7 linked regions of the Homo sapiens genome follow. The protein of the gene in region 1 purifies or fractionates together with the protein of each later gene. This does not show direct contact. Each region holds a gene or a part of one and is shown in the gene's direction. Other genes may lie near its edges.

Region 1 (4,718 bases):
AACTGGTCTCTACTAAAAATACAAAAATTAGCTGGGCGTGGTGGTGGGCGCCTGTAATCCCCGCTACTCAGGAGGCTGAGGCAGGAGAATCGCTTGAACTCAGGAGGCAGAGGTTGCAGTGAGCCAAGATCGCGCCACTGCAATCTAGTCTGAGTGACAGAGTGAGACTCTGTCTCAAAAAGAAAAAAAAAATAAAGATATGCATAATGAAAAAAACAAAAGATATTTGTTTCACGTATACTATGTATGTTGCCCTTTTTGCAAGAAATAGAAGACTTCAGTCTTTCTTCTTCTTTCTATCTGATGTCTAATCCCAAGGAAGCATGTTTAAAAAATTACTTATCAATTAAAATTCCATATTCTTACAGAAATGACTGGGCTCAGGTACCTTTGAGTCCAAATTTCTTCTCTGATCCTTGATAGCTGGATGACCTTGGACAAGTTTCTTCATCTTTCCTAGCCTCTGTTTCCTCATTCATAAAATTAGGGTAATAACACATTCCTAATAGATTTTCTGTGAGAATTACATGAAATAACCTATGTGAAATGCCTAAAACAGATCCCAACATGTAGAAGCTCAGTAGATGAAGTTATTTATTATTATTAAACATTGTCATGTTTTCCTGAATACTGACAATTTGAAATATTTAACTTGTTCCTTAAAATGAATCTGGAAAGACCTTAAAGAGGCTAATTTCCAGCCATGATCTAAAAAACAAACAGAGCCCCAATTGAACTTTAGATTTTTACAAATATTATACAGAAGACTCCAAATTTTGTCCTTCTTAAATGCACCAAGATAACACAACATCCTTTGTTAGAGGTGGAAAATAAACAGCTTCGTAGGAAACAAGACTTTATCAAGCAATAATTTAGAGATTTGTGTCCTTTTTTTATTTTATCTCTTTTATTAAAAAGAGAAAAAGCCATTCTTGATTCAGAAATATTTCTCAGATCATTATAGAATAACAATCAGGACTCTCCACCTTTTATTTTCATTGCTGGGTTGTAAAACATGGCTCTCTACAATGCCTACTCCAGAAAGATATTATTCTACAAATAAGGGCTCAGCATGACATTTATGAGAAAGCCGGGGTCCTCCTGTGCAAAGCTGATTGGTGATCAGCCAGTGGGTTCCGGGGCGCTGCAAATAAAGGCACTTTCTTCGCTGGGCTGATCAGATGCAGGACAGAGGGTTGCCTCTGCCTGTGGACCTTGGGGAAATGCGCGGCTCCTGTCCTAGCAGCACCTGTCTGTGGCCAGCAAGGAGAAACCAGACTCTCACAATGAAACATCTTCGTCCCCAGTTCCCTCTCATCTTGGCCATCTACTGCTTCTGCATGCTACAGATTCCCTCCTCAGGTAAGGGGAGCTTCCTCAGACTCCATCTGGCCTAAACTCTGAGGATGTCTGAGACAGACCTTGATCCCCCAGGGCAGCTCTGGAGGGAGTCAAGCTTTATTCTCCCCCGCCAGACCTTCTTGATTTCTGGCTGCAATTTGTTGGAACCTTTAGGAGAGGATCAAGAGAGCGAGATGCTGCAGCCTTTTACTAAAGGAGACTTTTCCCTGTGGGACTGTCTTTAAGCTGCTCCTGCCCTAGGGATGTCCTGAACATGTGTCGCTAAAACTGAAGGGAAAGGCACTTCCTGGTGTGAGTTAGGGGAAGATCCCACTTGTAGCCATTTCTGCTCCCTGGATTCTGAAGAGACGAGGACAGAGTTGGTAAAACTGAGCTTACAGCCCCAGAGAGTGGAAATTGATGGGCAGTTCGAGAAGGGCGCGGGAGGAGCGCACACTGGAAAAAGGAATCTTTCCCAAGCCTTTCCATTGGGTTTTAGAGAAGCAGGGTTCCAGAGTGTACCGGAAGCCGCTACCTCCCGGGGCCAGTGAGCTGTCCGAGGTGCTGACCGGGTGCGGGCATCGCCTCACCGACTCTGAGAACTAGCTTCTAGGGAACAGGGGTGGAGTGAGGGTCTGTGGTTGGAATCTGTTACCACCATCTTCATAGGATGCAGGGAAGTGGGCGGTGGCAGAACAACTACGGTTGGAAACACATACCATTTTACATTTTTCCATTAGAATTTTGACTTAGGGGAGTAGAAAATCTTTGGTAATATATTGACAGAGAAAACATATTTCAAACAATATGTTTGTTTGTCATGTCCTACAATGTAATCACAAAACTGGGCCTTGCAAAGGACCATGAAGGTCATCTGGTTTAACCTCTCACAGGGTGCAGGGATCCCTTCTGTAGCTTCCCGATTCTATTTAACTACTTCAATGACCCCAACTCACTGCCAGCTATGACAGCCAGGTTCTGCCTCTTTGCTCCAGTAGAGTCCTGTTTATATTACATTTTTGTAAATATGTTATTACCTTTTATGTATCTTTCTATATGTTTATACTCACCTCCCTATTTTTTCCTGTTTGACTTTATGTTCCCTGAGGGTAAGTCTTTACGTTTTATTAGCAAAGAACCTCTCCATAAATCCTTATAGGATTGGTTTGCATTACTTTGCATTATTGAATGATTCCAATCACCAAAAACTTCTTTAGGCTAAGCTTAAGTGTGATCACATGTAACTTTCTAACCGTCAGTCTTTATTCTGTTATTTGGGGGAAACACAGGATAAGACTAATATCTCTTACTTATTGAAGTTCTCAAAATAGTTGAAAGCAGTTAACATATACTTCCTAATTTTCCTGTTTCCAGAGAAAACTATGCTCAGTGCCTTTACCTCATATCTTATCATTTCAAGTCAGGCTATTATCTTTTAAGGTTTAGGCACTGTTATTTGAATATAACATAACATTGCCTTTGCTTTATCTTGGCTCAGAGAGAACGCAGGGAACAAAATACCATACAATTTTCTTTTGTCTTGTTTTTAAACATAAACTGCTCTTGAGCCATACATTCCCTGTTCCACACATTAAAAATCTAAGTGCCAGGTTTTATATTTATCCATCTAATTTCATCTTGTTAGTTTTGACCTATCCAATTGATTCTTTCGACTGCACTATAGCTATCCCACCAAGTGTTGTATCACAGGCAAGTGAGAAGAGGAGTTCATTGAAGTTAGACAAAAGGTTGACAGGGTCCAGCTGCATGCCAGCAGCCTTCCCCAGAGCCCATCCCTAGAGAGTCTGTAGCAGCAGAGAGACGGGTATCCATGTGTCTTCAAAGTTCAAAGGTGATTCTGATGTCCATCCTTTGTTGACACCATTTTCTGAGATGCCATCCTCATGAATTCTATCAAAATACAAACTAAGTTGTTACCTTGGATTTTTTTCCTCCTCTTTGCTGACTTGCTAATAGTTGTACTGAACACTCATGGTAAATTAACAACCATGCTATTTTAAATTAATCTTTGTATAAATCTCAGATTTGCTAGTGGCAAGTAGAAGTGTATTTTCTTTGTAAATCCTTTTAACAACATCAGATCAGATCTTACTTTCCCACTGACCTCTTTTGAATGGTTCTTTGGTGGTTTATTATTTTAACAGAATGTCTGTTTTTCATGATAAAGACTTTGAAGTAAATGCTATGACCTCTTTTCTCTAATTAATAATTTTATGATTTCTCACAATAGGATTTCCTCAACCTTTAGCTGATCCTTCAGATGGCTTGGATATTGTGCAGCTTGAGGTACCCAATTATTCAGTAATGTGAGATTTTTGTTTAGTCTGGACCTTGAATACATCATGTGTATAATGTTCACTTAAAACTATTTTGAGATCAGATTTTTGGCTGCAGCAGAAACTCACTGTTGCCATTTTTCATGGCCTCATTTAAGGCATCCTGAGGGTTGTGTTGAAATTCACTACCACTGTGTGAGAAAATAATGTGAGGTTCAGAAATAGGACAATTTTAGAATTTTAAATCTGTTGTAATAAAATTCTGCTGACTGAAGAATTTAAGCTTATCTTTGATTCGTTGTCTAAATTTTAAATGCATAATAGATGTACATACTTTCAGGGTACATGTGATATTCTGATACTTTCATATAGTGTGTTACAACCAAGTTGGGGGAAATGGAATATCGATGGATATTAAACATTTACCTTAAATAGTTACATTTTCTTTATGCTGGGAGCATTTGAATTATTCTCTATTAGCTATTTTGAGATATCCCATAGATTATGGTTTATACTATAGTCACTCTACTGAATTATCAAACACCAGGCCTTGTTTCTTCTATCTAATTGTATTTGATTACCCATTAATCAATCTCTCTCTTCATCCCCCTCATCCCTTTGATTTGTTTTCTTCATTTTATTTTTTAGCAGCTGGCATATTGTCTGAGTCAGTGGGCACCTCTTTCTCGCCAACCTAAGGTAAAAAAATGTGTATATATATAATATATATAAAATATATATATATGCAACAAACACACTCTTTTGCTACCTACAGGAGAATGCTGTATGTATGTGCATGCTTATGTGTGTTCAAGAATATAATTTTAGAAAAAATCAAGCAAATATCTTAAATATAAATATGTTAAATATCTTAAGTATCTTCAATATAAATTACTATAAAATATGGGTAGTTCATGTATATTCTTACAATTATTATAATCATGTATAGTTAAGCTAATTATATGTTATGATATATTGCATATTACAAATTGATATACCATGATATAGCAGTTCTCCAAAACAATAGTTATCATTTAAAAGACTTTACAGTAACTAGTTGGGCCTGGTGGCTCACACCTG
Region 2 (4,788 bases), about 90 Mb from region 1:
GCGAGACTCCGTCTCAAAACAAAACAAACAAACAAACAAAAAGGGTTCTCAGGCTGGGCGTGGTGGCTCACCATGCCTGTAATCCCAGCACTTTTTAGGAGGCCGAGGTGGGGGGATCGCTTGAGCTCAGGAGTACAAGACCAGCCTGGGCAACATAGGGAGACTTCGTCTCTACAAAAAGTACAAGAATTAGCCTTGTGTGGTGGCATGTGCCTGTAGTTTCAGTTACTCAGGAGGCTGAGATGGGACCGTTGCTTGAGCCCAGGAGTTGAGGCTGCAGCGAGCTATGATCAGGCCACCGCACTCCAGCCTGGGCAACAGAACAAGACCCTGTCTCGAATAAATAAATAAATATGCCAGGCGCAGTGGCTCACACCTGTAATCCCAGCACTTTGGGAGGCTGAAGCGAGTGGATCACTTGAGGTCAGGAGTTCAAGACCAGCCTGGCCAACATGGCAAAACCCCACCTCTACTAAAAATACAAAAATTAGCCAGGTGTGGTGGCATACATCTGTAATCCCAGCTACTCTGGAGGCTGAGACAGGAGAATCACTTGAACCCTGGAGGCAGAGGTTGCAGTGAGCCGAGATCACGCCACTGCACTCCAGCCTGGATGACAGAGCAAGACTCCATCTCAAAAAAAGTGAAAAATAAAAATAAAACAGGTTCTCCATCTCAGCACGGGGACCGCAGCGATAGAGGTCAAGGCAAAGCCACACCCATCAGAGGGTACTGGGCCAGGCTGGGAGAACCCTGGGGAGCTCCTTGGCATTGAACCAAGTACACCAAGGCCCGGAAGGTGAGGAGACGGGAGCATGAAGACGCTGTTGTCGCGATCCCTTCTTACCCTTGCCCTCCCCCTCCTCACCTGCTGAGCGTTCACAGTGACCCTAGAAATAGAAGTGCGTGACTTCAGGGTGTGTGTTTGGCCTTGATTTTGAATTCTAAGAAGGGGGCATGAGCTGTTGGATCACCCAGCCTCTGTCTGGCTTCAGTGACAGGCATCTCACTGCCTCCTGGGGCAGCCTTTCCCTCACAGGCAGCTCTGACTTAGTCCTCTGTGTTGAACACAACCCACCTCCCTTTAGTGGGGACACACTGAGCCCCTGGGACAGGCAGAAGAAGTGTGGCCTGTTTCCACATGAGCTCTTCAGATATTTGGAGCAGCTACTCTGATCGCTCAATTTATGTCATGGGAACTTTGGACACTGACAGGTTGCTTTCTGGCCTTATTACACATTATCCAAAGTTTCCTCTGCCTTGCATTCCATTAGGCTCATGAAACCTCTATCTTCTATGATTAAAAAAAAAATTTTTTTTAAATATTTTTTTCGGCCAGGCGCAGTGGCTCACACCTGTTATCCCAGCATCTTGGGAGGCTGAGGCAGGTGGATCATGAGGTCAAGAGATCGAGACCATCCTGGCCAACATGGTGAAACCCTGTCTCTGCTAAAAATACAAAAATTGGCTGGGCGTGGTGGCACGCACCTGTGGTCCCAGCTACTCGGGAGTCTGAGGCAGGAGAATCGCTTGAACTCAGGAGGCTGAGGTTGCAGTCAGCCAAGATTGTGCCACTGCACTCCAGCCTGGTGACAGAGCAAGATTCCGTCGCAAAAAACAACAACAACAACAAAATAAAAATAATTAATTTTTTTTCCTCCAGAAAGGGTAATAGGAGATAAACTCTAAGTCTTTGTATGTCTGAAAATATCTTCATTTTCTTAATACCTGATTAATAGTTTATTTGGAATTAAAATTCTGAGTTCAAAATAGCTTTCCCTTATACCTTTGCAGCCATTATAACAGTGGATTCCAGTGTCACTGATGAGCAGGTGAGGCCACCTGACTCTTGGCTTTTTGTAGGTGGCCTGTCTCCGCCTGCTCATCCCTTCCTGGAGACTTTTATTTATTTTTTAAAATTTAATTTTTTTTTTTTCTGAGACAGAGCCTCGCTCTGTCACCCAGGCTGGAGTGCAGTGGTGCAGTCTCAGCTCACTGCAACCTCTGCTTCCTGGGTTCAAGCAATTCTCCTGCCTCAGCCTCCCCAGTAGCTGGGATTAGAGGTGCCCGCCACCACACCCTGCTAGTTTTTGTGTTTTTAGTAGAGATGGGGTTTCACCACATTGGCCAGGCTGGTCTGGAACTCCTGACCTCAGGCGATCCACCCGCCTCGGCCTCCCAAAGTGTTGGTAGCCACCACGCCTAGCTGGTTCATCTTGATTATTCTTTCATGTGCCCTCCCCCTTTAAATGTTTGTGAGTCGTTTTATGACCATTTATATTTATGAACCAAAAACTGGTTGACTAGCACATGCAGTTGGAGTGGGTTTCTTTGTAATCGTGTACACCTATTTACCCAAAAGTTTTTTCCTTTGAACAGAAAGATCTTGCAAGCTCTAGGAAGTTGTAAGCTCAACCCAGGCACCTCTTATGTTTGCAGCCTAAATTCTCATCACCTGGTGGTCCAAAATACTTGAAAGTATAGATTTAATTTGAAGTGGTTTCAGACCAGGGATGCCTGCTATGTGCCTGACAAAAGCAAATGCATCCCCTCTCTGGAGGAAGGCCTCTTAGGCCTCAAAGAATACCCAGAGGGAATTTTTCAATGATGACAAGCTGCCAATGACAAAAAATAATCAACTCCCCAAAGAACCAAGTGAAGACTTAGAAGAAACAAGAAACAAAAATATACCAATGAAGATCTTAGTTACTAGGATCACCAGACACAGACTATAATCAGCTACGTTTATTATGTTTAAAGAAAACACCTGCAAAGGACAAGGACTATAGAAAGTGACCTAGAAGATGTGAAAAAGAACCAAATAGGACATCTGGAAATGGAAAATATAATAAGCAAAATGAAAGATATCAATGGTATAAGTTTAACAGATTAGACAGAGATGAAGAGAGGATCAGTGAGATGGAGAGAGGGAGATAGAAATGACCCAGAACACAGCATAGAGAGACAAGGACCTGATACAAGATAGCTGGAGAAGAAACTACAGCAAATATCATATTCAGTCATGATGTGATGGAAACTTTTTCTTTCAATAAAGGATTAAGATAGAGATGACTGTCATCATCACTTCCTTTTACTGTACTACTGGAGGTCCCAGCCAGTGCAGAAAGGTTAGGGGAAAAATGTATAAGGACCAGAAAGGGAAAAATCAAATGGCCATTATTCCCAGATCATGTGAATGGGAAATAAGAAAATCCAAAGGAAGCCATAAATTACTGGAATTAATAAGAGAATTCAGTAAGACTGCTAAGCACAAGATAAATTCATATATCTCTGACCAGGCCCAGTGGCTCACACCTGTAATCCCTACACTTTGGGAAGCTGAGATGGGAGGATTGTTTGAGTCCAGGAGTTTAAGACCAGCCAGGGCAACACAGTGAGACCCCATCTCTACAAAAAATGAAAAATTAGCTCTTCATGGTGGCACGAGCCTGTAGTCCCAGCTACACGAGAGGCTGACATGGGAGGGTTGCTTGAGCCTGGGAGGTGGAGGCTGCAGTGAACTATGATCAGGCCACTGCACTCCAGTCTGGGCAACACAGCAAGACCCTGTCTCAAAAAAAAAAAAAAAAAAAGAAAAGAATTTTTTTAAAATGTATATATCTCAGTCATTTCTGAAGCATCAAGCAAGTAGAAAATTTTATTTTAAAAAGATAACATTGCTGGCTGGGCACAGTGGCTCACGCCTGTAATCCCAGCACTTTGGGAGGCTGAGGTGGGCAGATCACCTGAGAGGTGAGGAGTTCGAGACCAGCCTGGCCAACATGGGAAAACTCCATCTCTACTAAAAATACAAAAATTAGCTGCGTGTGGTGGCGGGCACCTGTAATCCCAGCTACTCAGGAGGCTGAGGCAGGAGAATCACTTGAATCCGGGAGGCAGAGGTTGCAGTGAGCTGAGATCGCACCATTGCACTCCAGCCTGGGCAACAAGAGCAAAACTCTGTCTCAAAAATAAATAAATAAAATAAAAAGAGATATCCATGGTATCTCTATAGGGAAAATGATAACTTCTTAGAAGACACTAAAGGAGTCCTAAATGAATAGATATTCCCTATTTATAAATTTGAAGACTCATTATTGTAAAGCTATAAGTCCCCCTAAAATGATCTATAGTTTAATACAACCCTAGAAAAATCCCCAAGGTTTTTTTCCCCCAAATATGACAAGCTGATTATAATACATGTATAGATGGTCCCTGATTTTGATGATTCAACATAGGATTTTTCCACTTTGCAATGTTTTCTTCGGGCCGTAACCCCATTGTAAGCTGAGCAGCACCTGTACGTGGAAGTGCCAATAGCCAAGAATCACCAAGACTCTCTTGGAAAAAGAAAGAAGCTGGGAAGACATGCTTTAGCGGACAGCCAGGCTTGCCTGATGCCAGGAATGAGACAGGGTGGTTCTGGCACTGCACGGGTAGACAAGTGGACTGTCGGACCATAGAATCCACGGCAGCCACATGCTGTGTAGACACGTCCTGGCCTTATGAAGAGAAAGCACTTCAGTGGGGGAGGGAGAGGGTTCTGGGCAATGTTTAGAGTGGGGTCGGGGTCGCGTGGTTCCTGGAGGTGACATACGGGGTGTCCTCGTGCTAGGTGGCAGTGGGTCCCAAGATCCCTGGAGGTGACACACGGGGTGCCCTCGTGCTAGGTGGCGGTGGGTCCCAAGATCCCTGGAGGTGACACACGGGGTGCCCTCGTGCTAGGTGGCAGTGGGTCACATGACCCCTGGGGGTGAGAGACAACCCTCACATGGGTGGCCGTCTGGG
Region 3 (4,788 bases), on another chromosome or scaffold:
TGGTCTCGAACTCCAGGCCTTAGGTGATCTGCCCGCCTCAGCCTCTCAAAGTGCTGGGATTACTGGCATGAGGCACTGTGCTGGGCTGTGTGAGATTTTTGGATAATCCATCGCTCAGTTGTTTATTCCTTGTTCATGAGTACACGTAATCTCTTTTTCTGTGTGCAGCTCACATCAATTTGGCATTAGTGGCCAGATAGGGAGGGCATTTATTTGTCTGGGTTGTCACTTTTGGGTTGGTTTTGTCTTTAACCGTATGTGTAGGTCAACTAAGAACTCGGGGGCAGAGGAGAGCCCAGGCAGGCCCTTTGTGCCATGTCTTGTCACTCTAGGAATGGTATCTCAGCCTGATGACCTGTGTCCTCTCCTTAGGTGCTGATAGGAGATGTGGAAGATGCCATCTGCCTTCATGCCTTCTACTATGCCATATGGAAACGATATGGTGCCCTCCCTGAGAGATATAACTGGCAGCTGCAGGCCCCTGACGTTCTCTTCTACCCACTGAGACCAGAGTTAGTGGAATCCACATATCTCCTCTACCAGGTACTAGAGTTGTGTTTTTTTTTTTTTCCTTTCACTGCCTCCCCTGACCCCAGCAGTTCATTCTTAATGAACATTTGCTGAGTGATTTAGGGTTATGTTGTTTCATAGTGACTCTGATTGAGTTACCCCCTATCCGTAGTCTTGTTAGTGTTCAGTGTCATTCGTAACTTCACAGGACAGAGAAGGCATCTGCAGTCAAATATGTTTTTAACCTAATATTCTACAAAGCTGAATCATGTTTTTACCGTAGGACTTATAACTCACATCTTTAAGTATTCATGAGGAAGATTTGGTACTAAGGTGTTTTCCAAATGTATGTGACCAGAAGACCCGTTTTTAGGATGCAATTCTGCATCAGTGTACTGTGGAGCCCCGGTCTGTGTAACAACTATTCAGACAAAAAGAAAATTCATTTTCTTGGTTGTAAAGGAAATCATCTTGGATTCATCTGGATGCCTGTTTTTGTTTAATGTTTGTGTTTGTGTGTGTGTGTGTGTATATATATATACACACACACACACACACATATATATGTAATAGTGTTCATCCTTTGTGAAATTACTTCAGTGGTAGAGGGAATGTGACTTTAACTGTGAAATGTCTTCTTCCTGACGGTTGAAGCCAGGTATTTATACTTCTGTGTATGCCATACATATATACACACTGAGAGTCCTCCTCCATCCACATGCACAGCAGCACGAGTGGTTAACTCACCAAGAAACTGGCCTTGGTGAAATTCAGTAGGCCGGTAACAGATGCCCACCGTGGGCCAGCCCTAGCAAGCAGGGCCTGAGTTTTAGAAACTCTGGTAGTGGGGAGTTTTAGAAACTCTGGTAGTGGAGCTAACACTAAGATTTGAATTTATTTATTCAACAATTTTTTTATACCAAATCCTTGCCGTTTGCTTCAGATGAAAAAAGGGGAAAGAAATCCTGTGAAACTGGTAGTAGTCCTCATGCCTAAAAAGGGACTTCATGAGTTTTAGGTAACCTCTCAAAAAAGGGAAAAGATAATAGCCACCTGTTTGGCCTTTCTGAGCCCAGTAGAAAGACTGTACACGGAGGATGGCGTGCCGGTTACTGGCTGATTTCTTCTCTTAAGCTTAGTCCTGTGGCCTGTGAGCTTACTCCTCTTTGTTTCTGTCACTGCTTCTTTCATGTTTTCCGTTTCTCCTTCACGTTGACAGAGATGTCTTGCACTCTTCAGCTTTACCCTCCGAAGCCACACCCTGTGCACTTTTAATCTGGAGACTGCTAACCTTGTTGTTTGTTGCTGCAATCTGGCACTAGGCATGAATTAAAGATCCCCAACTTTTAAACTGTTTGTTGGATAAAGGCTTATCTTCCCAGAGAAGTTTTTCTCTAGTAAAACCATCTAAGAGTATGTGTGAGAAGAGTAGGCAACTGAGGACTGATTTCTCAGGGTGATTAGAAAGGAAAGGGTGGCGGCCTCCTTTCATACTTCGGAAAGTCTTGTTCCCATCAGCCTTTCCTCATGGTGCCATAACTGGAATGGCGGCAAGGTCCTCTTTCCTGTGCCTGTGTCTTAAGTTTCTGGAGAGTTCTGAGGCAAGATAGAAATTGGATTTGTTCTCAGATATGGTGCTGTCAGCGTGGGCATTGTTTTGTTTCTAATCATGATGGCAACCAAAGTAGACTATTGTTCTACCCTGGAACAGATGGTCTTACCCCTGGCTAAAGTTAACCAAATCACAGGTACTCTTTGATGTGAACTGACGGAGTACCTTAGTCCTCTAACCATTGTGACCCTGCAAGATAAATGACCTGGGCCCTGTTTCTTCCTTTGGCTGGCGACTCGTCTCCATGGGGAAGCCCCGCAGTCACCATGATGTTTGTCGATGGCATGTCTTCCAAGCCCATGCTGGATCACATTCTCTCGTGTTCTCTCTAGGCAACCAAGAATCCCTTCTACCTCCATGTAGGAATGGATATTCTGCAGAGTCTGGAAAAGTACACAAAAGTCAAGTCAGTTTTCTAAGTTCCTACCTTTTTCTGTCAGCCACTTTTAATTTATTTCAAATTGTTTTGGGGAAATATCCTAGTTTGCATTTTAATTTATAGAACCAGGTCATTAATGTTACATTTACAGGGAAATTGCTTACCTTTTGGTGTAGTAGAACCTTTCCATTGTACTGAGAACTGCCCTTTCTTTTCCGTGAGGTTCTAGCAGATTATGGGTGTTCATTCTAACTTCTTTCCCCTAGTTATATAATAACATATACGCTAAAATGTTTAGGGAGTACAGAAAATATAAAGCAGTAGAATATTATCACTGTAATCTCCACATACAGAGAAAACTGTAGTCAGTATTGAAATGTATGTACTTATAATCTTTTAAATATTTTTATATATGATGTGTGTATATATGTATATATAAGAAACATACTCTATATTTCAATTTTGTGACATGCTTTTTTTTACCTGCTGTAAGTTTTTTTTTTTAAGTACTATCTTAAATAATAAGTCAATACTCAAATAATAAGTCAATTCTCAATAATAAGTCAATTCTACAAGTATTAGGACTAGAAATTTAAATTAGTCCTTTTACATTTGTTGCCGGTCATTTTCCTGGTGCCACGTTATGCTTCTGGCCAGCACCCCGCCACCACGCCCACACCCTCTAACTCACCTGATAATTTAGCAGCCAAAAGCACTTGCTAAGTAAATTTGCAAACAACCCAGGCTATAAAAAAGGAGAGCCCCTCAATGTAAACATAGTTTCATATGGTGTTGGATGACTGGTTGATTATTCTGATAAGAGAATGTTTCTGCTTCTTAAGTGAATCAGCAGGTGGGAAGGAAGAGAGGCAGGACTGACCAGATGATTGTTTTGTAGGTGTGGGTACGCCACGCTGCATCACGTCATTGACAAGTCCACAGAAGACCGGATGGAGAGCTTCTTTCTCAGTGAGACCTGTAAATATTTGTATCTGGTATGTGTGTTGCAAGATGAACCCAGGAATATTTAGTATTGCTTAGAGCAAGCATTCGCATAGTCTTCCATCTGACAGGTACTTACTGGCTAAAGCTATGTGCTGGACATTGTGCATTCCCAGGATGCAAACGCTGTCAGAACCAAAGGATATTACTATCTTCTTTCATGGTTTCCAACCTTGTTGAAAAGTCATTTGTCAAGTAAACCAAGAACTGAACTTATGATTACAAACTGTGGGAAATCCTGGTAACGATTGATACAGAACCAGTGTTAGTTCTGTATCTAACTACAGGTGGTCGGGGAAGACGCCTCTGAGGAAGAGAGCTGTGTTCATAATGGCTTCTCACTTCTCTTGATGTATGTGATCTTAGCCAAGACCTGCAGCTCAGCCTTGTCTCTGTCCATACACACATCCTCAGGCACATGAGTGAGTGAGTGTGTGTGTGTGTGTGTGTGTGTGTGTGTGTGTGTAGAGAGAGAGAATTTCTGGACCTGGACGAACCCTTTGGTATTACCTAATGTTCATATGTTCATCATTTCCCTCACAAGAACTACAGCCTACACAGAGGTCAGGCGACTTGCTCAAAGTATGGCGATGGCTGTGGCAGAGCTGAGGTGTGAACTGTGGTCCTGACTCCCTGTCTGGTGCTCTTTCCATCTCACCGCTCTGCCTCGTGCATACAGCCACTCTCGTGCCCCCTGCCACTTTCCTCAGTATGGCCACATAGAAACAGAGGGCAGGATTTCCAGGTTAGAAGATAGCATGGCAACTGAGAACTTGGGCAGAGGGTCAGAGATAGAAGCAGCTGTGATAAATTGTGTTTATCTAGTTCCGTGGTTCCTAGGCCTGGGGCTAGCTGGGTCCAAATCACCCTGGGGCCCTTGCTAAGATGACAGCCATATTAAGTCAGAATCTTCAGAATAAGCGGGCTCAGAAATCTGTCATTTTGACAAGTGCCTCCAGTGGTTTCACATGAGCCAGGTTTTGGAGCTGCTGGTCTAATCCATTAAGACGATACTCTTCTCTGTCTGGGGTCTTTTCACAGATGACTGCAGAGGTATGTCCACCAGCAGCCCATGTGATCTGTCCAGTGGGAAGACAGCTGTCCTGCTGTCGATTCCTGTGTGTGCAGTGGTTCTTGCTCTCCTTGCAGGTGGCTCAGTTCTGCTAAATCAGGCTGGTCAGAGCCTAGCTACATATTTCCATCCAGCAGCCACTGGTGTCAGAAGGACGTTAACAGGGCGAGTTTTAGAGTAAAAGGAAGGTGACCCTGGAGGGTGTGCTAGCTG
Region 4 (4,788 bases), about 40 Mb from region 1:
TCTTATACAAATTTAGTGTTAAGTTTTATAAACGGTGATATTTAGTTGAATGATAGTAAAGGTCTTAATTTTTTCAATGTTAAAAAAAATTTAATCCATTGCTGAGTCATTCTTACAGAAGATGTGATTTTTTTTTTTAGTTACAGTGCCATGATACTTGAGTTATTACCTGCTGATTGCGAATAGTTTGTGTCTAATGCTTGGTATTTGATTTTTTATATTAAAGAAAAATAATTAAATGTATGATCCTAAATTCAGTTTGCTTACAAAAGTCACACAATATTTCCTACTTTTACATCTTTTTTTTTTAATTTATGCATCTAAAACTTTCCTCATTTAGGGATGAAGCAATACCCACCAGGATATGGCTGCATGTGTCTAAACCATGGTATCATTCCACTGACCTATTTTAACTAATTGCAAAATATTCAAGTCAGTGGGGTTACAACGATAATAATTAAAGTTCTCACATTTCTCAAAAATTTGATTTAAGTAACTTAGAGATGATATGATGTCTCTATAATAATGTCCCTCTCATTTATTTAAAAGAGAAGGCCTTCTAAAATGTTTTCCTGAATGGGAGATAAAGTAATAAAATTGCAACTGCTATCCTGGAAATTACAAGTAACTTTTTGTCTGTCCTAAAATGTTGCAGCTTATGACCAACCATTATGAGCACATTACACACTCAAATGTTACTCTTCATATGTATGTCCAGCATAAAAAAATGAAATTTAAACTGCTGATTTAGACAACTTGCTTGAGTAACTTAGCAGTACCCTTGATTGAGTTTACAAATATTAAGCTTAGGTTAGCAATAAATGCCTAAATTTCTAGGTAGCTTATAGGAAATGCTTTGGCTCTCAGAGAAGGATGTAGTACTCATATATCGTACTATAATAAAGATAGCCTGTCATTAGAATCATTGACTCCTGACTTATTTTTAAAAAGTGTTACAGCTTAACAGCAGCTCTAAATATCAACTGTTAGCAGCTTGGTCTAATCTGTATTTAATGTTAATGAGTTTAGTTTTTATACTTCTATACATTTATAAGACATGGGGGCTTATATGGAGAGAAGACCGTAACCTTGTACATTCAAAAAGAGTTATCTGTGGAATAATAAATACCATTTCAAACATTTTTTAAAAGTTAACTCCCCACTTCAGGAATTAGAATTATATTAGTTTTGATCATATTTTTAAATCCCAGCTCCTACTGAATATACCTGTGAAGATAATGTGAATCCATGTGGAGATGATGCATATTGTAATCAAATAAAAACATCTGTTTTCTGTCGCTGTAAGCCTGGATTTCAGAGAAACATGAAAAACAGACAATGTGAAGGTAGAGTACTTTTCTTCAACAGTTTGCTCATAAATCTTTGGGTTATGAAGATTCCCAAGACTTCTAAATTGTGAGATCACAGGGGATTGACTTTCATCAAAATGGTGTGTATCTACGGGATACCATTTCACTTATGAGAATGAAAGTCTCTGGGGTCAAGAGCTTGTTTGTGGAGCTAAGCTAACCACGACAGAGGCTACAAAGCTTTTTCTATAGCAAATTCAGAGCTGCAGGAATTTCAATTCTATTGCTACAATACTGTTTTGAAATGCAAATAACGAAATTCCTGGTTCAGGAACTATTGGAGAATTAGTCTTGCTTCATGAAAAAATATGTTTATGATGACCCATTTCTCTTGAGTGTGGAATTTGCAATACTGGAATAGGTAAATCACATTTAGAGAGTCATGGGCTTTTGTCCTAAAACCATGTTTTAAATAGATCATAATGTATCTTTAAAAATTCAAAGTCAGGATCTACATAAATCTGTCAACTTACTTGAGATCATTTAAAAATTGAGCATGTAGGATAGCCAAAATCTTATAGTAAGTAAGTAAATATAATTACATCAGTGTTCTAACTATAGAACCATGAAATACAGACCCATATGCACTTTCTGCAAGTTTCTCCAATAAAACTGCTATTTGTATTCATATTCATATTAATGTAAGTACAGCCAAACCTAAAATAACTAAGTCTGGCTTATCCAGGCTAAATTCAAGTCTTTAAGTGCTTTTACCTACCAGCTTGCTTTTGTTATGTCTCTTTGTGATATTTTGAGGTTAAGAAAAATGATTCTACTTCGTGTTAATCAAAATGGAATTATTTAAATGAATTGATTCTACTCACCCAAAAGGGGAAAAAGTGTAGTCACGTCATGTTTATCTACATTTTGAGTTAAATGTGTATTTGGATTATTCGTGACATTTGATTGTTCCATTACTATGAGACTGAAAGATGACAACCTAGGTTTTCTGTGTTTTAGTTAAAAAATGAATTATCTTTCAAACTATGGTATTTATTTTTCCCAGGCTCTTTCTATCAATTACATATAAACACACACACACACAATTCTTTCAATATTTTAATTTCAATAACATTTATTTTCTAATATTTGTCAGTGGGTTTTTTCTGTATATATGTACTAAATTTAGAAATTATATTATTAAAGTTTTCTTAATTTTTAATTACATTCCACAGCAAATATAACCTGCACACTACATTCTTTATTTTAAATTGCTATGAATCCACTTTTTTGTATTATTTTGTAGGACAGACGAGTAACTTCTGAACTCTAATAAAATGTTCATCTATTTTTAATAAATAAAGTTTTGATTTTAAGGAAAATAGTTCTATTTCAGTGTCAAAGAAGGGTAAGACATAATTGGATTCTATAATCCAAAAATTTAAATTTGTTTGTGCCCTTCACTTATGTATCTGAAAAAATGCATAAGAAATTGCTATTTGATGTTAAAGCCCAAACACTTCAATTAGAATATCTAAAGGGAAAAAAGTAAAGAGGAATGGTGGAAGAAAATTAGAAGGGGATTAACAGTTGCTGAGTGCCAGGTACTGTTTTGGGTACTAGGCATGTGTGGAATTCCTCCATCCCCTTCAAAAGCTCATGATCCAGGCTTTCTAGAGATGAGGCGAAAATGATGGTTCAGGCCAGTATAATGACAAGTGAGGAAGTTGAGGTTGTATGAAATCATGCAGAATACTGCTTATTTGGATTCTGTACCAAAGGGAAACCATAGTGACAAATAACTGCCGGTTCAAAGTTACAGGGGCTGAACAAATCAGAAATATTTGTTGTAATCGTGATGGTTAAGTACTGACAAGATGCATTCTACTTCATTCCTGTAAAATATTTATTAAAAACAACGAAATACACTTTTCTGCATCTCTTTACTCTACATTTCAATCAAATAGCAATGTGTGGTCATGAAAATGCTTATGTGTTCTTAGGCAAAGTATCACAGTAAAGTCAACAAAATCAGAAAACCTGAGTTTAAGCCTTGACGTTGTGATTTACAAGTGTCTCTACCTCTGAGCCCTTAGAACATTGTTTGTGTGCTACGCAAAAGATAGTTATTCTTACTGTGCTGATTCTTAAGTTCTCTAATTCAAGGGAAGGATTTATCTCACAGATTTATTAGGTAATTAGGAGATTATAAGTGATAAAATGAGGCAGGGGAAATATGCTGGCTAAACACAAAAGTAGAGGAGGAAAAGAGAGGAAAATTAGATAATTCCCTAGAATCACCTGGCCTCAATCCTGGCTCTTCATAAGCCCTTAAAATTAGAGTCATGTGCCAAGCTACATGACTCTGATTAAATCACATGAATACTGCCTGTGATTTATTTATTTATGCTAGTGATTTAGAGGTATTTATTCATATATAGGCATGCAGATTTTGCTTGCTTAATTCACATCACATAACCTCAATACAGCCCTTCTTGTTACGTAGTCACTTCATATATATGAGTCCAGAAGTGTGTTAGAGATGTGCCCAAATCTTTGTTCTCTGCCAGTCATTGTGCAAAATCTGGCAATAAAAAAGGAATGTATCATAATTTATGTCCTCAAGGGAATATGAATATGTAACCACATTCCTGAAATATAAGCAACAGTGTAAGAGAGAAACACCAGGAGAGCAAAAACTGGAGAAACTAAGGATGAATCATCACTCCCATATATGGTTGGAGACCAAGGAAGGCTTTATTTCAGGTGGATCTTGAAAGATGAGTAGAAATTCTGTATGGAAAAGTGGGCAAGGGCATTACGGGATGAAAGAATAGCCCATGATACCTTCGAAGGCATGGAGGTAGGTCATCAGAAACAGCTTAAAAGAAAACCTCAAGACAGGTCTATTTGCGTGAATGGAAATCTATACAACAAACCCCCATGGCACAAGTTTATCTAGGTAGCAAACCTGCACTTGTATCCATGAACTTAAAAGGTAAAAAAATAAATAAGTAAAAATTTTAAGAAAGAAAAAAGAAAGCCCCAGGGAAGTTTGAAATTGAAGCTTTAATATTTTAAGTGGATTAATAAAAGCAATGACAATTGATAAATCTTCTACTACAAATATTGTGAAAAATGATTATACCTTCAAAAATATGACACAGCAGGTCACAGATTAAAGATGTGAAAGGACAATAAAGCTAGTAATAAGTTAAAAATAATTTTGGCTTTTTTGAAACGTGGTAAGAATAGGAGTCTGAATTGAGGGTATGATGATGCTATTTTGAGCTCTTCTTTTCTAGACCTTAATGAATGTTTGGTGTTTGGCACATGTTCCCATCAATGTATAAATGTGGAAGGATCATATAAATGTGTGTGTGACCAGAATTTTCAAGAAAGAAATAACACCTGCATAGCAGAAGGTAAGATTATAACCACTATTGCAAATCCTATTACAATTTTGTTGTAAACATTT
Region 5 (3,500 bases), on another chromosome or scaffold:
TTGAATATCAGTAATGTTTACCACATGAAACTTTATATAACATGAAACAGATCTGCTTCAAATTTTCTCTTGGCCTTGGCCTGACTCAGGATATAGAACCATAAATAGAAAGCTTTCAGTGTTGTATTGCTTGATGTTCTTTTTACCTCAGTATAGTGTTTTGTAGCAGGGACTGGCAAACTTTTCTGTAAAGGGTCAGATTGTAAGTATTTCAGGCATTTTGGGCCACGTAGAGTCTCCGTTGCATGCTCTTCCCTCTTCCTCCCTCTCCTCCCTCTTTCTTTCCTGTCTTTGTCTTTTTCTTTTCCTTCTTTTAAAACCCGCTCTTAGGTGGTGGTGTTGGCAGGTGGGGGCTGGGTTGGTGCACACATAAACAGGCCCTGGGCTGTATTTGGCTTGAGGGCCAGATTTGGGCCAGGCAGATTTGGCCCACAGGCTGCAGTTGGCTAACTCCCATTCTATAGGAGAGAAAAATATCATTTTCCCCACCTGAAGTACTACAGTTTGCTTGTGAACTATGTATGCATTCTTCACCCACAGCTTTGGGGCTGACTGAAGCGTGTTGGAGCTCTTCTTTGGTAAATATCTAGAACAGTCCAAAGATGAATAACCTTGGACAATTTATTTAACTCTCTTGGACTGTCAGATTCTCAGTCTACAAAATAATGGAGCTGGATTCAACAGACACATTAAAAAATGCTCATCATCACTGGCCATCAGAGAAATGTAAATCAAAACCACAATGAGATACCATCTCACACCAGTTAGAATGGCGATCATTATAAAGGCAGGAAACAACAGGTGCTGGAGAAGTTGTGGAGAGATAGGAATACTTTTACACTGTTGGTGGGACCATAAACTAGTTCAACCATTGTGGAAGACAGTGTGGTGATTCCTCAAGGATCTAGAACTAGAAATACCATTTGACCCAGCTGTGGGGAAAAGAAAGAGAGATCAGATTGTTACCGTGTCTGTGTAGAAAGAAGTAGACATAGGAGACTCCATTTTGTTCTGTACTAAGAAAAATTCTTCTGCCTTGAGATGCTGTTAATCTGTAACCTTACCCCCAACCCTGAGCTCTCTGAAACATGTGCTGTGTCAACTCAGGGTTAAAGAATTAAGTGCTGTGCTTTAGATATGCATACACATAAACATCTCAATGCCTTAAAGAGCAGTATTGCTGCCCGCATGTCCCACCTCCAGCCCTAAGGCAGGTTTCCCCTATCTCAGTAGATGGAACATACAATCGGATTTTATACCGAGACATTCCATTGCCCAGGGACGGGCAGGAGACAGATGCCTTCCTCTTATCTCAACTGCAAAGAGGTGTTCCTTCTGCTTATACTAATCCTCCTCAGCACAGACCCTTTACGGGTGTTGGGCTGGGGGACGGTCAGGTCTTTCCCTTCCCACGAGGCCACATTTCAGACTATCACATGGGGAGAAACCTTGGACAATACCTGGCTTTCCTAGGCAGAGGTCCCTGCAGCCTTCCGCAGTGTTTGTGTCCCTGGGTACTTGAGATTAGGGAGTGGTGATGACTCTTAACGAGCATGCTGCCTTCAAGCATCTGTTTAACAAGGCACATCTTACACAGCCCTTAATCCATTTAACCCTGAGTTGACACAGCACATGTTTCAGAGGGCACGGGGTTGGGGGTAAGGTTACAGATTAACAGCATCTCAAGGCAGAAGAATTTTTCTTAGTACAGAACAAAATGGAGTCTCCTATGTCTACTTCTTTCTACACAGACACAGCAACAATCTGATCTCTCTTTCTTTTCCCCACACCCAGCCATCCCATTACTGGGTATATACCCAAAGGATTATAAATCATGCTGCTATAAAGACACATGCACACGTATGTTTATTGCGGCACTATTCACAATAGCAAAGACTTGGAACCAGCCCAAATGTCCATCAATGATAGACTGGATTAAGAAAATGTGGCACATATACACCATGGAATACTATGCAGCCATAAAAAAGGATGAGTTCATGTCCTTTGTAGGGACATGGATGAAGCTGGAAACCATCATTCTCAGCAAACTATCGCAAGGACAAAAAACCAAACACCACATGTTCTCACTCATAGGTGGAAATTGAACAATGAGAACACTTGGACACAGGAAGGGGAACATTACACACCGGGACCTGTTGTGGGGTGGGGGGATGGGGGAGGGATAGCATTAGGAGACATACCTAATGTAAATGACGCGTTAATGGGTGCAGCACACCAACATGGCACATGTACACATATGTAACAAACCTGCACGTTGTGCACATGTACCCTAGAACTTAAAGTATAATAAATAAAAATAAAATAAAATAAAATTAAATTAAAAAATGGAGCTGGATTAGATCATTTCTAAATTCCTTTTCAAATCTGAGATTTTTGAGTCAACATGGAATTTCTTGGCCAAGCCCAAGTGGAAACCAGTTCTGCCTGCTAGAGAGAGTTGCTTACCTTGTCCCTTTGCTCTTTCTTTTTTGATTTTTTTCTTTCCTTGTTCCATCTTCAGTGATTCCCCCTTTGATGAATCTTCTGATGGGGGAAAAAGTGTTGTTGTTTTGCTTGCTCGGTGTTATTTGGTGGACCTTATAAAGTGTATTTTATGTAATTTTTTTCTCTTTTCATAAAGGTTGTCAGCTTTTGTTTTAAGATGTTTCCTTGAAGCCGATCCTTACATAGATATTGATCAGAATGTGTTACACAGAACATACACTTGGCTTAAAGGACATCAGAAATCCAACGGTGAATTTTGGGATCCAGGAAGAGTGATTCATAGTGAGCTTCAAGGTGGCAATAAAAGTCCAGTAACACTTACAGCCTATATTGTAACTTCTCTCCTGGGATATAGAAAGTATCAGGTATTTCGTATTTAATTTAATAAATGATAGATGGGAAATTCAAGGAAGGTAGGTCTTAATGGGTCAAATATGTGTGTGGAAACTTAACAAGTTGCAGCTTTACAACACATGTGAAATCTGAATTTGAGTACTCTTTTGCTTTGCATTTGTGGCCATGTTCCAAAATCTGAGAATAAAACATTAACCCACTCTTTCAGAATAACTAAGAGAATTCTAAAAATGCTTTTTAATGTATGTATTGTACTTGCTATTGGTAAGATAAGTCAATACATGTTTTATCATTGAAAAAGTTAATTTCTGAGGGGAAAGAAAATTATTTAAAATTTGACAATGTGTTCTAGCAAGTTTAGATTGCAAAGGATTTTTTACTTATAAAACATCATGGAACAGTTACAATATCTGTTAATTTAGTGCTGAGAACACCCATACCCTGAAAAGTGTGTTGAATGGGCATGGATGCCTGGATGAGAATGAGTATGCGTGGAAAGGTATGCTGACGAGCTTAAGTTTGCTCCAGAGCTGTCCTGGTGATTGATGCCTTTACTGCTTACTGCCTGCTGCATTTTATGAGATCACCAAAGTCATTCTCTTTATTAGGACCCCCACTATTTTCCTATTCTACTAGTAGGC
Region 6 (3,689 bases), on another chromosome or scaffold:
AGGCTGATGTGGGCAGATCACCTGAGGTTGGGAGTTCGAGACCAGCCTGGCCAACATGGTGAAACCCCGTCTCTACTAAAAATACAAAAAAATTAGCCAGGCATGGTGGTGGGCACCTGTAGTCCCAGCTACTCAGGAGGCTGAGGCAGGAGAATCACTTGAACCTGGGAGGCGGTGGTTGCAGTGAGCCAAGATTGCCTCACTGTACTCCAGCCTGGGCAACAGAGCAAACTCCATCTCAAAACAAAACAAAAAAACCAAAAATCAAAACTTAAAAAACAAAAAACTGCTGGTGGGCTGGGTGTGGTGGCTCACTCCTGTAGTCCCAGCACTCTGGGAGGATTGCATGAGCCCAGGAGTTTGAGGCTGCAGGGAGCTATGATGGTGCCACTGCACTCCAGCTTGGGCATCAGAGTGAGACCTTATCTCAAAAATAAATAAACAAAGGGAAGGAAAGGAAGAAGAAAATGAAAAACTGCTGGTGGATGAACAACAGCCTCATTCAGTTGACTTCTTTTTCCTTCACCAAGACTGACTGGAGCTCTCCCGTGTCAGCTCGTAGCACAGAAGGTGAAGAGCCTGCTGTGGGGCCAGGGCTTCCCAGATTACGTGGCCCCTTTTGGAAATTCCCAGGCCCAGGACATGCTGGACTGGGTGCCCATCCACTTCATCACCCAGTCATTCAACAGGAAGGTAAAGGGGAGAAGGTACAGGTTCCATGCTAGTGGTCTCTGTCTTCCAGGTGGTGTGATGAAGGCAGCCGGGGAAGCCAGCTGTTAAGGAGGCAGGATGGCCCTGAGTGGGAGCGCGGGCTGAATCTTGGATACTGATTTTTGCCCCTTGTTAGCAATGTTGCCTCTGGCCAGCAGTTTTATGGCTTTGAGCCTCTGTTTTCATCTGTGAAATGGGAACGCTAGTCAATAGTGAGTGAATGGCCTCATGGGGCATTGAGAGGGTTAAGTGAGGTAACATTTATGTGGCCCTGGGCATGGTGCCTAGTGGTCCATAAATGGGAACCTCTGTGATCCTCATCCTGTTGCTACCATCATTGTGATTGCTGGTGTCCCCCGAGCCCTCTCCAGGCATCTCATGACACGATAGACGAATGTTGAGTCCTGTATCAAAGACTGAGACTGACTTCCGTGCATGTGGCTCTCCCACCCATTGTCCCCTGTTCTACACAGGCAGCCCACACCTGAGAGTTTTCACTGCCACAGTTCCTCACAGAGTTGAATGGAAGTTGACAATCCTACAGATAGGTTCCCGGTCACACATGATGCTTCTGCCCACCTTTTTCTTTTGTCTTAGCAGTCAGCGTGTGGGCCGGCCCTGGCCCAGGGGCGTGCTCTCCATCTTAGCCTGTAATTGCCCAGCTTGTTCTTGTCACGCTTTCTTCAGACCTCTCATTATCCGCTCCGAATATTTCTAGCATGGGCATAACGGGGGTGAGGACTGCTCACTTCTCTGATCCGCCCTCCCACCGAGGCCAGCAGAGACCCGGGATTACTCAGTCCCTGCCGTTCCACTGCGAAGTCTTGACTCAACTCTCCCACCAGAACCAGGCACATCGCTTCTGGCTTCTTGGCCATGGGTGAAGATGTGCAGTTATTACTCCTCCTCAGAAGGGAAGACATGGGTTGGGAGGAGAGGCAGCAGTGCGCACATGGCACCGTCAGGGTCTGTGCTGATCCTGGGTGCTCAGAGGGCCTGCAGCAGCAGGTTTTGTACCAACTCTGCCGGCAACCCAGGTAGAGGCAGGCACGAGCACCTGCTAAACTCAGTTTCCACCAGCTGCATGCTGCATTGTCTCCTAAGAACAGGGTATTCGAGAGGATTGTTCAGTCTGCATGGTTTTTAAAGGCGGTTCCAAGCTAAGGAATTCCATCAGTGCTTTTTTCGCAGCCACCAAATTTAGCAGGCCTGTGAGGTTTTCATATCCTGAAGAGATGTATTTTAAAGCTTTTTTTTTTTAATGAAAAAATGTCAGACACACACAAAAGTAGAATAGTACCATGGAGTCCCCACGTACCCAGCCTGCAGCTTCAACAGTTACCACATTTGCCAACCGGAGAGACTGCCAAGGCAGGAAAAAGCCCTGGAAAGCCCACGGCCCCTTTTTCCCTTGGGTCAGAGGCCTTAGAGCTGGCTGCCAAAGCAGCCAACCAAAGGGGCAGCTCAGCTCCTTCGTGGCACCAGCAGTGTTCCTGATGCAGTTGAAGAGTTGATGTCTTTGACAACATACGGACACTGCCTGGATTACCTAGATGTCACATCTTAATTGCCAATTGATGAAATTAGGTAAATGAAAAGAAAGCACTTAAATTTCCCCTTAGAGCATTTTAACATGACATGCAATCAGGTTTTGTCTGCTAATAATTATTTCTCCCCCTCCATCCCTCCCACCAGTTTCTTTCCTGAAGTCTGTGAGGCCGCTATAAACAGGTAGATGAAGTTAGAGCAGTTATGGCCCTAAATGGTCCACAGTTGGGTATTGGCACTACCGCAGTTTCAGGTGATGTCGGCATTTTTAGAAATAGGAGGAGATGGAAAAATTACGCTTCAGCTGTTAAAAATATTTTTGGGGCATTGAGTTACTTTAAAACACGTATATTCTCTAAGCTGTTTTTATCTGAACTTGTAGAGTCTATTCATTTTCTTGTTCAGAACATTTTGTAATATGTGAAACCTTTTATAATTAAAACTCTGAACTGCAGATTAAGTCTGACTTGCAGTTTTGTAAGATTCTAATGGATTAACAGCATTTTGTTTTGCAGGATTCCTGCCAGCTCCCAGGGGCTTTGGTTATAGAAGTGAAGTGGACTAAATACGGATCCCTGCTGAATCCACAGGCCAAAATAGTCAATGTAACTGCAAATCTAATTTCATCCTCCTTTCCTGAGGTAGGCCTAACCTAGTTTAAAGGCATAGGTTAAGACAGAAGTCTAGACACAACTCAAGTGTGGTAGGTGACAGGTATTACTTTGTGAAAAAGATTATAATTTAAACCATGGGGGTTCATAAAATATTTCAGCAGTCATTCTTAGAAACACTGACGATGGTTCTACTTACATTAGCATTCTGGTTCAGATTGGATCTTTAAAATTCTCATGAAAATTATGATATTCACGTGTTAATCAGACACCCTGGTAAAATTGTTTCTCTCATCCAAGTTAATGGCCAATTAGTGCTCCAGGACCTATCAGATTCATGAACTGACAGTAGTTGGGTGAGGAAGAGAATGAAAAGTGTCTCATTGTTGTCATTCTGGGAGCACACTGGAGGGTGGGCCTTGCATCTCTCTGTTTATTACAGGCCAACTCAGGAAATGAAAGGACGATTCTTATTTCCACTGCGGTTACTTTTGTGGATGTGTCTGCACCTGCAGAGGCAGGCTTCAGAGCTCCACCAGCCATCAATGCCAGGCTGCCCTTTAACTTCTTCTTCCCGTTTGTTTGACGTAAGTGAGGAAACTACGCCCCTCCTCTGAGGTCATCCCCTTTGGAAAGTGTGCACGTGGGGCTAGAAGTCCCTAGGGGATACTGCATTTTATACTTTTTGAGGGTCTCGCTTTGTTGCCCAGGCTGGAGTGCAGTGGTGTGATCATGGCTCACTGCAGCCTTGACCTCCTGGGCTCAAGCAATCCACCCACCTCAGCCTCCTAATAGCTGGGACTACAGGTGCACACCACA
Region 7 (4,788 bases), on another chromosome or scaffold:
CTGGAGCACACACTCCATTTTGGCTTGCAACAAGTATACTGGTGAGGGTCTGCGTGAAATCCATTCTGACATCTTCTCTCCCATGGATATACATGCCTTCAGCCAACAGAGGCAGCCAAATGGTAAGTGATCCTTGATTTTTAAATTGCAAGTTGGAACAGCTTTGTAGCACTCTAATGTCTGGCTTTAGTGAGGATCAGGAGGAGGGAGGGCATATCCAAAGATAGTTGGCGGGAATAAAAAAGAGTTAAAATCCTACTTGGGAGGCTGAGGCAAGAGAATCACTTGAACTCGGGAGGCCGAGGTTGCAGTGAGCTGAGATTGCGCCACTGCACTCCAGCCTGGGAGACAGAGAAAGACTGTGTCTCAAAAAAAAAAAAAAAAAAGTTAAAATCCCAGCACTTTGGGAGACTGAAGCAGGCAGATCATATGAGGTCAGGAGTTTGAGACCAGCCTGGCCAACCTGGTGAAACCCTGTCTCTACTAAAAAATACAAAAATTAATGGGGTGTGGTAGTGTGCACCTGTAGTCCCAGCCGCTTGGGAGGCTGAGGCAGGAGTGTCACTTGAACCCGGAAGGTGGAGATTGCAGTGAGCCGAGATTGTGCCACTGCACTCCAGCCTGGGCAACAGAGCGAGACTTTGCTCAAAAAAAAGGGAAAATGTAAAAGTATAATTCAGGTTAGGCAATAGCCTAGACCATTTTGTAGCCTGTCACTACAGACCACCTCAGCCTTTTTGAGTCAGCGCTTTTAGAGGTGGAGAAGAGAGAGATAATTTAAAAATTGAGATAGCTTATATGCTAGGCTTATACACAAATGAGTTTTTTTGTTCATATTATTTCTTTCAGTATGTAGTTGAATGTGTTGATGTGAGTGTGTTTAAAAAACAAACTCTTGGGCCAGGCGCGGTGGCTCATGCCTGTAATCCCACACTTTGGGAGGCCAAGGCAGGTGGATCACTTGAGGTCAGGAGTTTGAGACCAGCCTGGCCAACATGGTGAAACCCCGTCTCTACTAAAATAACAAAAATATTAGCCAGGCGTGGTGGCGTGTGCTTATAATCCCAGCTACTTGGGAGGCTGAGGCTGGAGAATCGCTTGAACCCGGGAGGCAGAGGTTGCAGTGAGCCAAGATCACGCCATTGCACTTTCAGCCTGGGCAACAAGAAAGAAATTATGTCTCAAAAAAAAAAAAAACAAAAAACACACACACACACAAAAACGCCTCTTCTTTTTAAATGAAAACTCTGTTAATCTAGAATATATTTGAATTTAAGTACCTCAGCTTGCTAAATAAAATACCTACTTAAACTTTTCTGTGTACCCCTCCCACCTTGTTTTCCTTAGTTTTGGTTCTGTGTTTGGTCAGCCTTTACAATGACTCGGGCTATGACTGCTGAGAACTTGTAAGAGAGGACTGGAATTAGGTTTAAAAGGAATACGAGAATGTTAAGGGTTTGGCACTTTTGTGTAAATAAATGTCTGGCATCTGTCTGAGTGTATTTCAGATTTTATTACATAGCCAAAAATGAAGAGATTTTGCAACATATGTTGCTTTATATTAGCTCTCCATTTAGGGGGAGATAATCAAATATTGAAAGTGTTATGTTGGAATCTGATGATCATGAGCCCATAAAAATGTTTTTAAGTGTATGTGTTACTCTTCTGTACAAAAGAAAATGTTCAGTCACTTGTATGAATTTTTTTATTCTTCATAGCCCTCAAAAGAGAATTTTCCCTGTTTTTTGTTTGTTTTTTGAGATAGAGTCTTGCTCTGTTGTGCGTTTATGTGATCACGGCTCCCTGCAGCCTCGAACTTCCAGGCTCAAGTGATCTTTCCACCTCAGCCTCCCTAGTAGCTGGGACTACAGGCATATGCCACCACACCTGGCTAATTTTAGTATTTTTTATAGAGGTAGGGTCTCACCATGTTGGTGACCCAGGCTGGTCTCAAACTCCTGGGCTCAAGTGATCCACGCACCTAGGCCTCCCAAAGTGCTGGGATTATAGTCACGAGCCACCGTGCCTGGCCTCTTGTTTTTCTTTTTAAATGGCATTGTTGGTCCTTTATGTTTTACTAATTTGAGAATTTGCAGTTATCTTTCATGTTGGTTACTTTTATCTTTCATGTTCCATTGGTCTCCATCTTATGTTGATTTTTTTCTATGAGTATTGTTTGGACATATCCCTTTCCATAATTTCCAAAGTTTGCTAATTAGTTTTCTCTGATTTTCATTTTCCCCTTTTTTCTGCTTATCCCTTCTATGTTAATCTTCCCAAGGCATGACTTTTCAACATAATTACTTTTCTTGGCTTTCAGTGTCCTTCACTTTAATCTATTCCCATTCTTTGTATTCATTCAGCTTTAGTTCCTATTAGTCAGTAGAAACCTTAACCTCCAGTTATACTGTTCACCTTAATATCTTACCCAGTTTATAGCCCCCAAAGTTTTATTCAGATAGCTTTACCATACTTGAAATGTCCTCTTATCTATCCTTCCTATCCTTGAAGGCTCCCGTGCTGTATACTCCACAAAGCTCTTCTTCAATTCTTTAAACCTCAGCGGTTTTTTTCCCATTTGACTCTGTACTTATTGTCTATAATGTGCAAAATAGCACTTAGTTTTATTGGTTTTGTTTGTTTGTTTGTTTGTTTTTAGTTTTGCTTTTTGTTAATTTTGTTTAACTGACTAAATTGTAACCTCTTTTAGGGCAGGGATCTCCTGCTTTACTTCTTGTGTATTCCTCTTTGGTTACAAAATACTAAGTAAATTCACACTGATTAATTCCTGTCTTTGCAGATGGTTTGATAGTCAAGCACCTGCATGACATTTGGTAATAATTTTGGCTTATCACAGTTGTTCATGTTATGGTTGTTAACCTTTGTGTACTTAGTAATCATTGATATTAATCAATGTGATTTATATTTGACAGCCACAAATCCATGTGGAATTGACAATGGGGGTTGTTCCCATTTGTGTTTGATGTCTCCAGTCAAGCCTTTTTATCAGTGTGCTTGCCCCACTGGGGTCAAACTCCTGGAGAATGGAAAAACCTGCAAAGATGGTAAGAAGATATTATCCAAAATGAAAAATTTTATAACTATTGGAATTCTTCATGATTTGTTTTCTCTATAATCAGCTCTCTAGGTTATACTGCTTTGGGAGACCAGTCACTTAATTTCACAGTCTTCACACATGGTTATAGAATAGGAGTGTTTTGTTCTGTGGCATCACTTGAATGCTATTTTATAAATTATTTTAGTGTTTTAAATAACATATTTTTGAAAAAAGTTACGTGTTGTATCTTTTCTGTCAAATCTCATAGTCATTGATATCACAGTTGATAACTATGGAAATGAGTAGTCGCATAAGGAATATATTTTTAACAGGTAGCATTTGTGAATAAAGAACCTCTGTGAAAGAAAGTATGTTTATTAAACTTTTAGCTACAAAGAATATCATGAGATATATTTTATAACAAATTATTTAAGGATGTTTTAAATTGCTTTTTAACAACAGAGAGATGCTTTCAGAGCTGGGAAAAAAAATCCATATTTAAAACAACTTCTTTTTATACTTAAGAAACACACTTTGCCTGTTCTCCTTACTCTTAATTCCCTATAGAGAGAGGGCACGTTGGAGAAAGTATACTGATTTAGGACATTTTAAGGGACTTCCAGTTTGGAAGAACACCAGTTCTTCTGTTTTTCTTCTTAATGAGAATGTTATTCTTCATTCTCACCCCTATGGATCACCATCTGGTTCTCTAGCAACCAGCAAGACCTGGTAAGAAAATTGTTGTATTTAGCTGTGGCTTCTTTATCTAACTCTGAAAAGCAGAAGCCTGTGTTTTGGAGTGTGTTAGAGTCCCTGGCAAGGGGGCCAGGGAGTCAGAGAGATGGAATTGAGTCTGTGTACAGGATGTTTGTTATGACTTGGCATTGATAAATTATCCTCATAGTAAAAGGTGAAGCTGGCTGACTCTTGGTCAAATGGTTTCCATGGCAGACAGCAATTTGGTTTCAATTTAAAACAAAAGGTTTTTGTAATGTTGCTTTTTTCTTTAAAAATGTAGCCTGACTTTAAAACAGAGGATTTATTTTAGCAATAATGGTCTATCTGCTCCCTCACAGCAGTGCAAGTGTACATATTTAACCAGTTTTGAATTTCATGTGTGCATTTGGCATGTAGTAGCCTTAAGTTAACTGTTCTGTTTTGATCACCTTGCTCAAATTAACAGCTCTATGACTTCTTTGTGAAGTTCTAGGCTGGCTCCTTTTGGTTGTTAGCCGGGGCAGTGAATTGTACAAAGTTATTCCTACTTGGTTCCTGCAGTGGCATTTGGGCTGTATTTTCTTCAAGTTGGAATTCATTTATAATTAGCTCTAGAGTGAAAGGGCTGATATTGAGAGGCTTCACTCCTCTTCTCAGTTTTTTGACTTGTAATTGCAGATTGATTCTTGAAGTTTATATGCCAGTATTTTGTTTTGGACTCATTTATTTAGCTGGGAATCTTTTCTTATTCTTTCAGTTGTCAATTTGCTTACTGTCTTTTATTAGCTTCCTATAGTTAGACGATTTTTTGCTGGTGGTTTACTTGAACAATTTAAAATGAAAAAAAGATTGAGCTCAGTATCTTCATTCTTGGTTATGTGGTTAAGTATTTGGGGCTTGGGCTTTAAACAGTTCATAAATAAACCTAATTTAAAATTCAGTGAAATAAAAATCTGAAAATCTTTATTTTTTAATACTGTTGTTAAGTATTAGTTAATATTTCTTGAGTACTT

Evidence for each region.
Region 2: the proteins of NMS (region 1) and CYS1 purify together in Homo sapiens (affinity purification with mass spectrometry; one large-scale study listed by BioGRID and IntAct). This does not show direct contact.
Region 3: the proteins of NMS (region 1) and EDEM1 purify together in Homo sapiens (affinity purification with mass spectrometry; one large-scale study listed by BioGRID and IntAct). This does not show direct contact.
Region 4: the proteins of NMS (region 1) and LRP1B purify together in Homo sapiens (affinity purification with mass spectrometry; one large-scale study listed by BioGRID and IntAct). This does not show direct contact.
Region 5: the proteins of NMS (region 1) and CD109 purify together in Homo sapiens (affinity purification with mass spectrometry; one large-scale study listed by BioGRID and IntAct). This does not show direct contact.
Region 6: the proteins of NMS (region 1) and TCTN1 purify together in Homo sapiens (affinity purification with mass spectrometry; one large-scale study listed by BioGRID and IntAct). This does not show direct contact.
Region 7: the proteins of NMS (region 1) and LRP6 purify together in Homo sapiens (affinity purification with mass spectrometry; one large-scale study listed by BioGRID and IntAct). This does not show direct contact.

The regions. Positions count from the first base shown.
Region 1 is NC_000002.12:100,469,203-100,473,920, forward strand, and holds the start of NMS (neuromedin-S preproprotein), read left to right. Parts: upstream 1-1,279; 5' UTR 1,280-1,286; coding exon 1,287-1,362; intron 1,363-3,592; coding exon 3,593-3,648; intron 3,649-4,286; coding exon 4,287-4,337; intron 4,338-4,718. UniProt on the Homo sapiens protein: Implicated in the regulation of circadian rhythms through autocrine and/or paracrine actions.
Region 2 is NC_000002.12:10,066,212-10,070,999, reverse strand, and holds part of CYS1 (cystin-1), read left to right. Parts: intron 1-4,788.
Region 3 is NC_000003.12:5,207,721-5,212,508, forward strand, and holds part of EDEM1 (ER degradation-enhancing alpha-mannosidase-like protein 1), read left to right. Parts: intron 1-372; coding exon 373-543; intron 544-2,454; coding exon 2,455-2,528; intron 2,529-3,399; coding exon 3,400-3,496; intron 3,497-4,788. UniProt on the Homo sapiens protein: Extracts misfolded glycoproteins, but not glycoproteins undergoing productive folding, from the calnexin cycle.
Region 4 is NC_000002.12:140,352,900-140,357,687, reverse strand, and holds part of LRP1B (low-density lipoprotein receptor-related protein 1B precursor), read left to right. Parts: intron 1-1,211; coding exon 1,212-1,346; intron 1,347-4,615; coding exon 4,616-4,735; intron 4,736-4,788. UniProt on the Homo sapiens protein: Potential cell surface proteins that bind and internalize ligands in the process of receptor-mediated endocytosis.
Region 5 is NC_000006.12:73,804,203-73,807,702, forward strand, and holds part of CD109 (CD109 antigen isoform 1 preproprotein), read left to right. Parts: intron 1-2,641; coding exon 2,642-2,870; intron 2,871-3,500. UniProt on the Homo sapiens protein: Modulates negatively TGFB1 signaling in keratinocytes.
Region 6 is NC_000012.12:110,644,437-110,648,125, forward strand, and holds part of TCTN1 (tectonic-1 isoform 1 precursor), read left to right. Parts: intron 1-530; coding exon 531-693; coding exon of another isoform or gene 694-707; intron 708-2,759; coding exon 2,760-2,900; intron 2,901-3,312; coding exon 3,313-3,456; 3' UTR 3,457-3,457; intron 3,458-3,689. UniProt on the Homo sapiens protein: Component of the tectonic-like complex, a complex localized at the transition zone of primary cilia and acting as a barrier that prevents diffusion of transmembrane proteins between the cilia and plasma membranes.
Region 7 is NC_000012.12:12,182,257-12,187,044, reverse strand, and holds part of LRP6 (low-density lipoprotein receptor-related protein 6 isoform b precursor), read left to right. Parts: coding exon 1-122; intron 123-2,933; coding exon 2,934-3,065; intron 3,066-4,788. UniProt on the Homo sapiens protein: Component of the Wnt-Fzd-LRP5-LRP6 complex that triggers beta-catenin signaling through inducing aggregation of receptor-ligand complexes into ribosome-sized signalosomes.